3 linked regions of the Homo sapiens genome follow. The protein of the gene in region 3 purifies or fractionates together with the protein of the main gene of each other region. This does not show direct contact. Each region holds a gene or a part of one and is shown on either strand. Other genes may lie near its edges. The genes, in order: SCAF1, SRBD1 and ZBTB48.

What was found.
Region 1: the proteins of ZBTB48 (region 3) and SCAF1 purify together in Homo sapiens (affinity purification with mass spectrometry; 2 studies listed by BioGRID and IntAct, with this or other methods). This does not show direct contact.
Region 2: the proteins of ZBTB48 (region 3) and SRBD1 purify together in Homo sapiens (affinity purification with mass spectrometry; 2 studies listed by BioGRID and IntAct, with this or other methods). This does not show direct contact.

The regions. Positions count from the first base shown.
Region 1 is NC_000019.10:49,652,105-49,655,849, reverse strand, and holds part of SCAF1 (splicing factor, arginine/serine-rich 19), read right to left. Parts: coding exon 2,145-3,745; intron 1,502-2,144; coding exon 1,419-1,501; intron 1,199-1,418; coding exon 980-1,198; intron 1-979.
Region 2 is NC_000002.12:45,604,602-45,608,346, reverse strand, and holds part of SRBD1 (S1 RNA-binding domain-containing protein 1), read left to right. Parts: intron 1-2,905; coding exon 2,906-2,985; intron 2,986-3,745.
Region 3 is NC_000001.11:6,578,100-6,581,844, forward strand, and holds the start of ZBTB48 (zinc finger and BTB domain-containing protein 48), read left to right. Parts: upstream 1-1,894; 5' UTR 1,895-2,037; exon of another isoform or gene 2,038-2,441; 5' UTR 2,442-2,510; coding exon 2,511-3,200; intron 3,201-3,745. Other genes in the region: TAS1R1 (taste receptor type 1 member 1 isoform b precursor), read left to right, coding at 554-1,485. UniProt on the Homo sapiens protein: Plays a critical role in transcriptional regulation and chromatin remodeling. Acts as a regulator of telomere length. Directly binds the telomeric double-stranded 5'-TTAGGG-3' repeat.

The sequences.
Region 1 (3,745 bases), on a different chromosome or scaffold from region 3:
AAAATTAAGAAATGAGCTGGGCATGGTGGCGCGTGCCTGTAGTCCTAGCTACACAGGATGCTGACGTAGGAGGATCCCTTGAGCCCGAGAGATCAAGGCTGAGGCTACAGTGAGCTGTGACTGTGCCACTGCATGCCAGCTTGGGTGACAAAGCGAGACCCTGTCTCAAAAACCAACCAACCAAGGCCGGGCACGGTGGCTCACACCTGTAATCCCTGCACTTTGGGAGGCCGAGGCTGGCAGATCACCTGAGGTCAGGAGTCAAGACCAGCCTGGCCAACGTGGTGAAATGCCGTCTCTACTAAAAATACAAAAATTAGCTGGGTGTGGTGGCGGGTGCCTGTCATCCCAGCTACTCGGGAGGCTGAGGTAGGAGAATCACTTGAACCCTGGAGGCGGAGGCTGCAGTGAGCCGAGATGGCACCATTGCACTCCAGACCAGGTGACAGAGCAAGACTCCATCTCAAAGAAAAACAAAAACAAAAACCCACATCTAGACCTGACCAAGAGAGAAACAGCTCCAGAGCCCAGGAGTAGGAGCCGGCCAGAGCAGCTGAGTAAGAACCTACATTACTGTCTGCCTGGCACCCATTCTCCCCTGCTTCATCTACAAACAGGTTCTTGAGTTTTCATTCGGAAACCACCCTCCCCCACTCACAGAGACGGAGACAGCGCGAGCAACAGATAATCAAGGGGTGGGCTGCAGCGCGGGGCATCTCTTCCAGGGTGTGTATATGTGGTGTGTACGCACACAGCCCCACACACGCACAGACGCGATTTTCCTTTGGACACGCCTAACGCATTTCCTGCTCACCCATTCCAGCAAAGTGGAGTTCCTTATGGTTCCATGACTTTGGTCTCTACGGCCCTGTCTCCCTGCCTCAGTCTCCCTTTCTCCTTGGGCCCCCGCGTCTCAGTTCCTGTCCATATTCTCTACAGAACTGTCAGCACCGCCCCACCTCTCCCCAGGCCAGCTCACCTTATCTGTGTCCCCACGGCCCTCAGAGCTGCTGCTGCCCTCTCTCTTGTCAGACGTGGCAGCCAGCCCGGTGGGGGTGGGGGGGGTCGAACCGCAGCCCCCCAGAGGGAGGCTGCCAGGAAGCAGGTAGCTGGAGGGGCCAGGGGGCAGACCCAAAGAGGTGGGCACAGGAGCTGGGGTCATCCCCAGACTTGAGGGTGGCTTTCTGTGGCTGAGGATCTGTGGGACGAGGACAGAGGGGTGATGAGTAAAGGGAGGTGGAGGGGAAGAGGGGACGTGCACCCCACTGTTCCCACGCTGACTTCCCCACAGCTGAGGCAACAGGCTCCTCTTCAGGCCGATACCTTGCCCCAGAGCTGCCAGGCCCGCGGTTCCTCTCCTAACCCGAGGCAATGGACAAAAGAAGGGGCGGCAGGGACTCTCCCCCAGGGGAGCCCACCTGGTTGGTGGCCTGGATCAGCTCCTGGGCCTTCGCTCGGCTCGCCAGGTTGGCTTCTTCCATCTTGAAGAGAAGTGCAGTCACTGCAGGAGGCAGAGAGGTGACAACATGAAGATGGGAGAGGTGACAGGACAGGAGCTGGTGAACCTCACCTGGACACCTGCTGTCATCTCCTGCCCTTGGCCCCAGAACAGCCACAAAGCCTCACGCTCAGAACTGGGAAAAGGGGGCCTTGGCCAATGAGAGAACAGCCCATACCACGAATGTTCTTGGGACTCCAGGTGTGTGGGTGCGGGGTTGGCCAGGGTCATGCAGTGATGAGACAGTGGCAGGAGTGAGATTCTGCCTCCTGACCCGCTGTGGCCAGTCCCAACCTCTCTCCCCACCTCTGCAGTCTGGTAGAGGCAACCGCCATCCGTAAGGAATACGATGCCCTGCTCAAGCCATTCTTTCTGGTCCCTCTCTCCTACTCCCCGTCTAGGGGAATCCCAGAACCCAGCCCACCACTCCAGTCTGTGCTGGCCACCACCTGCTCTCACCGGCCCCTCTCTCCCAGTACACCCAGGCACCTAGAGCCTGGCTGGCCTTTACTCACCCCCACCCTCCCAGTCTATGTCCCTATAAACCTCTCCCTGCCAGGGCACCCCACTGCCTCTAAGTCTGTACCCTCCAGTCCCCATCCTGTCTCACCTGCCCCAGCACCACCCTCCCCCAGGGGACACTCACAGGCCAGGACGCCGCTGGTGGTGCAGTCCACACCAGCTGGCAGATTCCAGGGCATGGGCGGGGGCAACGTGGGCAGCTGGGAGACACGGGAAGCTGGCCCGTCCTCCGCCCCCGAGTCACCGGCTGTGGACCCCGCGCTGGGGGCAGTGCTTGGGGCGGCTGCAGCAGTGCTGGTGGCCGTGGTGGTAGCAGGCTGCTGCTCCTCCTCCTCTTCCTCTTCCTCCTCCTCTTCTTCTTCCTCCTCCTCCTCCTCCGCCCCACCTCGGACCCCAGCCTCCTCAGTGGCCTCCTCGGGCAGGAAGGAGACCTCAGGTGTCTTGCAGCTGCTGTCCACGGTCTGCGAGTCCGGAGTGAGGGCAGGGGGTGGTGGGGCTGCCTTGGGGGGCGGGGTGCTAGGAACCTTGGCTGCCCGCTCCTCCCCGGACCAGGAAGTCTCCTCCGCCCCCTTGGTGCCTGCCGCCTGGCTGCAGCTATCCGCCTTGGACTTCTTCAGCGACACCTGGCCACCACTGCCCCCGCTGCCACCTCCACTGCGGACCTTTTTCCTGGTCTTGGATGGCTTGGTCTTTCCCTTGGTCCCCTTGGTTTTCTTGGCCCCTGCCTTGGCCTTGACCTTGGTCTTTTTGGGCTTGGTGCTGCCCGGAGCTGCTTTGGCCATCTCAGTGGGGGCCCGCTCGTCAGGTTTGAGGAAGGGGGAGCGACTCTCGCGGTCACGGCTGAATTTGACGCCAATGGAGCCCAGGCCGGCTGACGCGGCATCCTTGGCCGGGGTGGTGCTGCTGACACCCTCGCGGATCAGCACCGCCACCTTGGACTGCAGCTTCACCTTCCGGGAAGAACAGGAGGACGACGAGGATGAAGAGCCTGAGCCGCTGCTGACTGGTGGCTTTGGCGGGGGCCCTGAGGAAGGCGCCGACTCCTTGGGGGGCCGGGCCTTCTTGGATGACCTGTCCCTGTCCCTATCTCTGTCCCTGTCCCGATCCCGGTCACCCCCGTCCAGCGCCTTCCGACGAGACCCCTTCTCCCGGGAAGAGGAGGAGGAGGAGGCGGCCCCCGAGCGGCGCCGATCCTTCTGGCTGCTCTTGCCGCCCCGCTCCTCGCCGCTCAGTCCCTCGGAGTCGTACAGGACCTCCCGCTTAGGTGAGGAGGCCGGAGCAGGAGAGGGTCCTCGGGGGTCGGACTTGTCAAGCCGGCCCACCGTGATGGTCCGCTTGATGGCGAAGAGGTCGTGGTCCGTGAGGTCCTGGATGGAGGGTGGCACGGCCCCCCGGCGGCGGCTGTCGCGGTCACCACACGAGGTGGAGCCAGAGGGCGGCGGGGCGGGCGCCGGGGCCTTCTCGCTGCCATCCCCAGACCGCTTCTCACCCCGGGACCGCGACCGCTTCTTCTTCTTCTTGCTGCCGCCACCGTCCCGGTGTTTCCCGCGGTGCCGCTCGCGCCTCGAGGACGACGATGAGGAAGTGGCCGGGGGCGGGGAGGCGGAGCGCCGCCGCCGTCGCCGCTTCTCCCGGGACCGCGACCTGCGGCTGCCCCCGCGGCGGCGGTCGGTGCTGCGCGAGCGGCGGCGGGTGGAGCGGGAGCGGGAGCGGGAGCGGGAGCGG
Region 2 (3,745 bases), on a different chromosome or scaffold from region 3:
TGGCTTGTGTGTTCATGCAGATTCTGCTTTCCCACCTTTCCTTTTACATTGATATTTTTAACATTTGTGAAAAGAAATATTACAACTCACTCATCTTTCCATGGTATATTGCTTTCGGGGTGCCTTATAAAGAGGCAGTTGGAAATATTTGATTTAGGGGAGCCTTCTTTAAGGATAATGGTTAAGCAAAAACATAAGCCTGCCAAGGGTTTGCCTGTCCCTATTTTAAACACATTTCTGTTAAGGCTGAAGTGTGGAGATAGAATTAGTATATGGTAGTCTGTGTGGGAATGTTCTGAATTCAGGCATATTGTAGAATGTGGTGGTAGGAGTGATTGTAAGGTGATCTGGGTGGGTTGTTTGATGGGAAGCTTAGCACCTTCAAGTTTTTACTCTTGGACTGGTTAGATTCTCCAGAGAAAAGCCTTCCCATTCTCCTCCCTAGAGGGCAGTATTTTAGGAATTTAGTGGCGGAAGACTAGGGTTCTCTGCCTTTAGCATTCAGTCTGTATGGTTCCCATGCCCACAGTCTAGACTGTTTCATTAATACCTTCTCCAGAGAATAAACTTACAGTCTTTTTCCTGGGGCAGTTGCCTAATAGCATGAAGTGAGGTAGGACACTTAGAGATATTCCTTTGTCAGTTTATACACAGCCCTAACCCGTTTCACCTTTAATTCCAAAGGTATCAGCTACTGCTTCATATGAATTTTTTTTTTTTAGAATACTGCAGGGTAAATTGGTTTGGTTCTCATATGCTCCCACTACTGGCTTGGGATTTTAATTTTTATGTGTTGCAATTTGTTAGTCTTTTTGGTTTTGGAATTTTGAGGAGTCATATTTAGGAAAACCTCCATTTCCCCATCTCCCCTCAATAGTGTGAAAAGAATCACCTTTATTTCTTAGTTCTTTTATAGTTTTAATTTGTACATTTTAAACTATTAGTTATTGGGGAATAAATTTTTGTTAATGGTGTGGAGGTAGGAATTAAACTCCTTTTTTTCTTCTAGAGGAATAGCTAGTTGTCTCAATACCATTTATTGAATAATCCATTTTTACCCTGCCCTGATTTTAAATGCCACCCTTGTCATACACTAACTTCCTCCATTCTTATTTTGTTGTGGTAAGATACACATAATATAAAAATCACAATTACCTGTTCTTTCATGATCAATGTCTAAAAAATACTAATTTGAGAAAGGATGATCTTTATAACCTAATATGCCAAAAAGAGAGTGAAGGGAAAGATGGAAGATTATCCTGTCTACTTCCTGCAGACTGCTTTCCTGTTGTTCTTTTGGTTCCCTCTGAGCACTATTTTGCCCAATCATTGTGTACTTACTGGACTGAGTTGAGCTATAGCTGCTGGGAGAACATATTCCCTTTTGTGACAACCCCTTTAGTATTTCCATGAGAGATTATTTCCTCTTCTAAGCGGATGTTAGAACCAGAGGCATTATAACATATGACTGGGTCAGAAACTTGTTTAAAGGGTTCCAAACATGTCAGAGCCTAGTGTAGTCCTTATAGTTTGATGGTTTTATGGTAATAATATCAGGCAGCCACTTATAAAGTCCTTTATTAATTAATTTTAACAGCTAATTAATCTTAACAGCTAAAGTAATTTTATTTACTTTCCCGTATTATGTGATGTCTCTGGTTATTTGTCTTAACTTTTTTTTACAGCTTGGCCTTCGAATTTGGTAAATAGTTTTTAGTCACATAGTGATTAATCATTTTATTTAAGTTTAATGAACTTTTATTATAAGGGAATGATTATCTTGTTTTAAGAATAACCTGGCTGCTTACTCAGTCAATCAGCATCATTTATTTCATTGCCAACTTTGTAGAGAGACCTCTACTTTATTCATTAAGAATATATAGAATAGGCTGGGCACAGTGACTCATGCCTGTAATCCCAGCACTTTGGGAGGCCGAGGTGGGCGGATCACCTGAGGTCGGGAGTTCAAGACCAGCCTGACCAACATGGAGAAATGCTGTCTCTACTAAAAAATACAAAATTAGCCGGGTGTGTTGGCGCATGCCTGTAATCCCAGCTACTAGGGAGGCTGAGGCAGGAGAATCGCTTGAACCCAGGAGGCGGAGGTTGTGGTGAGCCAATATCGTGCCATTGCACTCCAGCTTGGACAGCAAGAGCGAAACTCTGTCTCAAAAAAAAAAAAAAAAAAAGAATAGGAAAAAAATGTTTCTGTCTTTGAGATATAGTTTAATAAAGGACTTTGTAAGGGGCTGCCTGATATTATTACCATAAAATAACACAGAATACTTAAGCACACAATTCTTAAAAAATGAAGCACACAGTTTTCCTACAGGTGTCACCCTGTAGGAGTTTATATTTTTTAAAAGATGGCCCATACTCTTAAGAGTTTTAAACCATTGGAAGGCTGTTAGCTACTCTTTTTTTTTCTTTTTTTTTTTTTTTTGAGACCGAGTCTCACTCTGTTGCCCAGGCTGGAGTGCAATTATGCAATCTCAGCTCTCTGCAACCTCCACCTCCTGGGTTCAAGTGATTCTTCTGCCTCAGCCTCCCCAGTAGCTGGGATTTCAGGTGCCCACGACCACACCTGGCTAATTTTTCTATTTTTAGTAGAGACTGAGTTTCACCATGTTGGCCAGGCTGGTCTCGAACTCCTGACTTCAGGTGATCCGCCCTCCTTGGCCTCCCAAAGTGCTGGGATTACAGGCATGAGCCATGGTGCCCAGCCAGCTACTCTTTTAATTGGCAGCTACATAGCAGAGGAAACTGATGTTTGGGCTTGTGAATAAACATCATTGTTTTTGTTTTTTTCCTATGAAATGTTAGTTTTGAATGACCCATTACTTGTAGCCAAATAAAGTGATAAGAATATTCAAGTGTTGCTGATTTTATTTTCTGTTTCTTCTAGATGTCATCATTGCCAAGAAGAGCGAAAGTACAGGTCCAGGATGTGGTACTGAAAGATGAATTTTCTTCATTCTCTGAGTTGTAAGCATACTGGTTTAATATGTGGGTAGGGGAATGATGAATATTTTAATAAGGAGTAATGCATTCTGTCACTTTCTAACTCCTTAAGTGATGTGGGTAGAAAAAACTTTTTTTATTCATTCATGCAACAAGTATTTGTTGAACTCATGCTGTGTTCCAGGTTCTGTCTAGTGTTGCTAATAAAGTATCGAAAGGAGAGAGAAAGTAACCAACTAAATATGTAACATAATACTTACACTAGAATATAAGCTCCATGAGAGCATAGAGTTTTATATATTGCTTTAGAGCAGGATTTTTCAACCTCTGCACTACTGACATTGTGTGCAAGACAATTCTTTGTTGTGGGGGCTATCTTTTTTCTTGTAGGATTTTTAGCAGCATCCTTGGCCTCTACCCACTGGATGCCAATAGCTTCCTGCTAAGTTATAACAATTAAAAATGTCTCTAGACATTGCTAGATATCCCCAGTTGAGAATCTCTGCTTTAGAGTCATATTAGGTGCTCTGAAGATATTTGTTAAGTAAATGACTGGTAATATTTATAGTAATAAGTACTATAAAGAAAAATAAAACAGGGCAGGGGATAGAGAGCATAGTGAGTGGTTGCAGTCGGGGGGCATTTTGGATAGAGTAGTCAGAAAGTTATTGCGGAAGATGTGGCAAGAGATCTAGATGAGATTTGGGGGTGCAGCTTGCAAAGATCTTGGGGATGGGTGTTCCAAATAGAGAAAGCAGCAAGTGCAAAGACCCTGAGGCAGGAA
Region 3 (3,745 bases):
CATCCAGAAATGCAAGGTCAAGAACAGAGAGCAAATTAGGTAGCTAAGGACTCAGGTCCTTAGTTGGTGTCCAGGGGCCACATTCTTTCCTTTCACCATCTCTGTAGGGACAGGAATACTTCCCTTCTGTCCTCAGAGGGTCAGGACTCAGAGAAACCACAGAGCAGCAGCTCAGGAAAGTGGTTCATGGAAATGCTGGCAAGAGAGAGGGGTTACAATGCCCTCCCTTGGGAGCAGGCTGCTCCCATCAGATCGTAACCTCTCTGGTATGTGGGCAGAGCTACCAGGTTAAGGTCCTCCCTAGGGTTTGCAAAACCCTCATGGGATCATGAGCCATACAGAACCGACCTGTGTGTCTCCAGAGTCTGTAATTAACACAGGCATTTTGAGGAAATGCGTGGCCTCAGGCCCCACTCCCGGCTACCCCCATCCCACTATGCCTAGTATAGTCTAGCTGCCCTGGTACAATTCTCCCAGTATCTTGCAGGCCCCTATTTCCTATTCCTACTCTGCTCATCTGGCTCTCAGGAACCTTCTTGGCCTTCCCTTTCAGACCTCTACAGATGCCAGCCTTGTGGGAAAGAAGAGTGGGCACCTGAGGGAAGCCAGACCTGCTTCCCGCGCACTGTGGTGTTTTTGGCTTTGCGTGAGCACACCTCTTGGGTGCTGCTGGCAGCTAACACGCTGCTGCTGCTGCTGCTGCTTGGGACTGCTGGCCTGTTTGCCTGGCACCTAGACACCCCTGTGGTGAGGTCAGCAGGGGGCCGCCTGTGCTTTCTTATGCTGGGCTCCCTGGCAGCAGGTAGTGGCAGCCTCTATGGCTTCTTTGGGGAACCCACAAGGCCTGCGTGCTTGCTACGCCAGGCCCTCTTTGCCCTTGGTTTCACCATCTTCCTGTCCTGCCTGACAGTTCGCTCATTCCAACTAATCATCATCTTCAAGTTTTCCACCAAGGTACCTACATTCTACCACGCCTGGGTCCAAAACCACGGTGCTGGCCTGTTTGTGATGATCAGCTCAGCGGCCCAGCTGCTTATCTGTCTAACTTGGCTGGTGGTGTGGACCCCACTGCCTGCTAGGGAATACCAGCGCTTCCCCCATCTGGTGATGCTTGAGTGCACAGAGACCAACTCCCTGGGCTTCATACTGGCCTTCCTCTACAATGGCCTCCTCTCCATCAGTGCCTTTGCCTGCAGCTACCTGGGTAAGGACTTGCCAGAGAACTACAACGAGGCCAAATGTGTCACCTTCAGCCTGCTCTTCAACTTCGTGTCCTGGATCGCCTTCTTCACCACGGCCAGCGTCTACGACGGCAAGTACCTGCCTGCGGCCAACATGATGGCTGGGCTGAGCAGCCTGAGCAGCGGCTTCGGTGGGTATTTTCTGCCTAAGTGCTACGTGATCCTCTGCCGCCCAGACCTCAACAGCACAGAGCACTTCCAGGCCTCCATTCAGGACTACACGAGGCGCTGCGGCTCCACCTGACCAGTGGGTCAGCAGGCACGGCTGGCAGCCTTCTCTGCCCTGAGGGTCGAAGGTCGAGCAGGCCGGGGGTGTCCGGGAGGTCTTTGGGCATCGCGGTCTGGGGTTGGGACGTGTAAGCGCCTGGGAGAGCCTAGACCAGGCTCCGGGCTGCCAATAAAGAAGTGAAATGCGTATCTGGTCTCCTGTCGTGGGAGAGTGTGAGGTGTAACGGATTCAAGTCTGAACCCAGAGCCTGGAAAAGGCTGACCGCCCAGATTGACGTTGCTAGGCAACTCCGGAGGCGGGCCCAGCGCCAAAAGAACAGGGCGAGGCGTCGTCCCCGCATCCCATTGGCCGTTCTCTGCGGGGCCCCGCCCTCGGGGGCCGGAGCTAGAAGCTCTACGCTTCCGAGGCGCACCTCCTGGCCTGCACGCTTTGACGTCACGTCCGGCGCGGAGACGGTGGAGTCTCCGCACTGTCGGCGGGGTACGCATAGCCGGGCACTAGGTTCGTGGGCTGTGGAGGCGACGGAGCAGGGGGCCAGTGGGGCCAGCTCAGGGAGGACCTGCCTGGGTGAGGAGGGCGCGGGGTGAGGGAGGGAGGGGCTGCGGGCCGCCGTGGCTGCCTTCCGCTCGGCCGCTCGGGACCTGTGGGCGCGGCGTGGGCTTCGCTCACCTGTCCCCGGCTGCCGCCCTCCGCCGTCCGGGATCCTCTCACTGTGCCGGGCCAGTCCGTTCGCTCTCATCCCATGTCTCCTTTCCCCAAACTTGGATTTTTCTCACCAGGCCCTTCTTCACGACCCTGGCCCCCCATCCAGCATCCCCCCTGGCCAATCCAATATGGCCCCCGGCCCCCGGGAGGCTGTCAGTGTGTTCCAGCCCTCCGCGTGCACCCCTCACCCTGACCCAAGCCCTCGTGCTGATAAATATGATTATTTGAGTAGAGGCCAACTTCCCGTTTCTCTCTCTTGACTCCAGGAGCTTTCTCTTGCATACCCTCGCTTAGGCTGGCCGGGGTGTCACTTCTGCCTCCCTGCCCTCCAGACCATGGACGGCTCCTTCGTCCAGCACAGTGTGAGGGTTCTGCAGGAGCTCAACAAGCAGCGGGAGAAGGGCCAGTACTGCGACGCCACTCTGGACGTGGGGGGCCTGGTGTTTAAGGCACACTGGAGTGTCCTTGCCTGCTGCAGTCACTTTTTCCAGAGCCTCTACGGGGATGGCTCAGGGGGCAGTGTCGTCCTCCCTGCTGGCTTCGCTGAGATCTTTGGCCTCTTGTTGGACTTTTTCTACACTGGTCACCTCGCTCTCACCTCAGGGAACCGGGATCAGGTGCTCCTGGCAGCCAGGGAGTTGCGAGTGCCAGAGGCCGTAGAGCTGTGCCAGAGCTTCAAGCCCAAAACTTCAGTGGGACAGGCAGCAGGTGGCCAGAGTGGGCTGGGGCCCCCTGCCTCCCAGAATGTGAACAGCCACGTCAAGGAGCCGGCAGGCTTGGAAGAAGAGGAAGTTTCGAGGACTCTGGGTCTAGTCCCCAGGGATCAGGAGCCCAGAGGCAGTCATAGTCCTCAGAGGCCCCAGCTCCATTCCCCAGCTCAGAGTGAGGGCCCCTCCTCCCTCTGTGGGAAACTGAAGCAGGCCTTGAAGCCTTGTCCCCTTGAGGACAAGAAACCCGAGGACTGCAAAGTGCCCCCAAGGCCCTTAGAGGCTGAAGGTGCCCAGCTGCAGGGCGGCAGTAATGAGGTACTGTGCCCAGGGTGTTGGGACTGGGGAGACAAATAGAGGGAATAGACACTTTTTTGGTATAATAGGGACCCTGGGCTGGGTGTGATGGCTCACTCACGCCTGTAATCCTAGCACTTTGGGAGGCCAAGGGGGGTGGATCACTTTAGCTTGGGAGTTCGAGACCAGCCTGGGCAACATGGCGAGGCCTCATTTGTACAAAGACTATACAAAAATTAGCCGGGTGTGGTGGCACACACCTGTAGTCCTAGCTACTCAGGAGGGTGAGGTGGGAGGATCACTTGAGCCCAGGAAGTGGAGGTTGCAGTGAGCTGAGATGGTGCCACTACCCTCCAGCCTAGGCGACAGAGCAAGATCCTGTCTCAAAAAAAAAAAAAAAATATGTGGACCTTAAGACAATCTCTGTTAATGTGGGTTTGGAACAGGCTTTCTCCAAAGGAAGCTGGTGACCTCAGGCTGACCTTTCTGCAAGCCCCAGCTGTTCACGGTTGCCACCTTCCTGAGAGGAGTGGGCAGCATCAGGGTTACAGGTGTTTCCCCAGGGC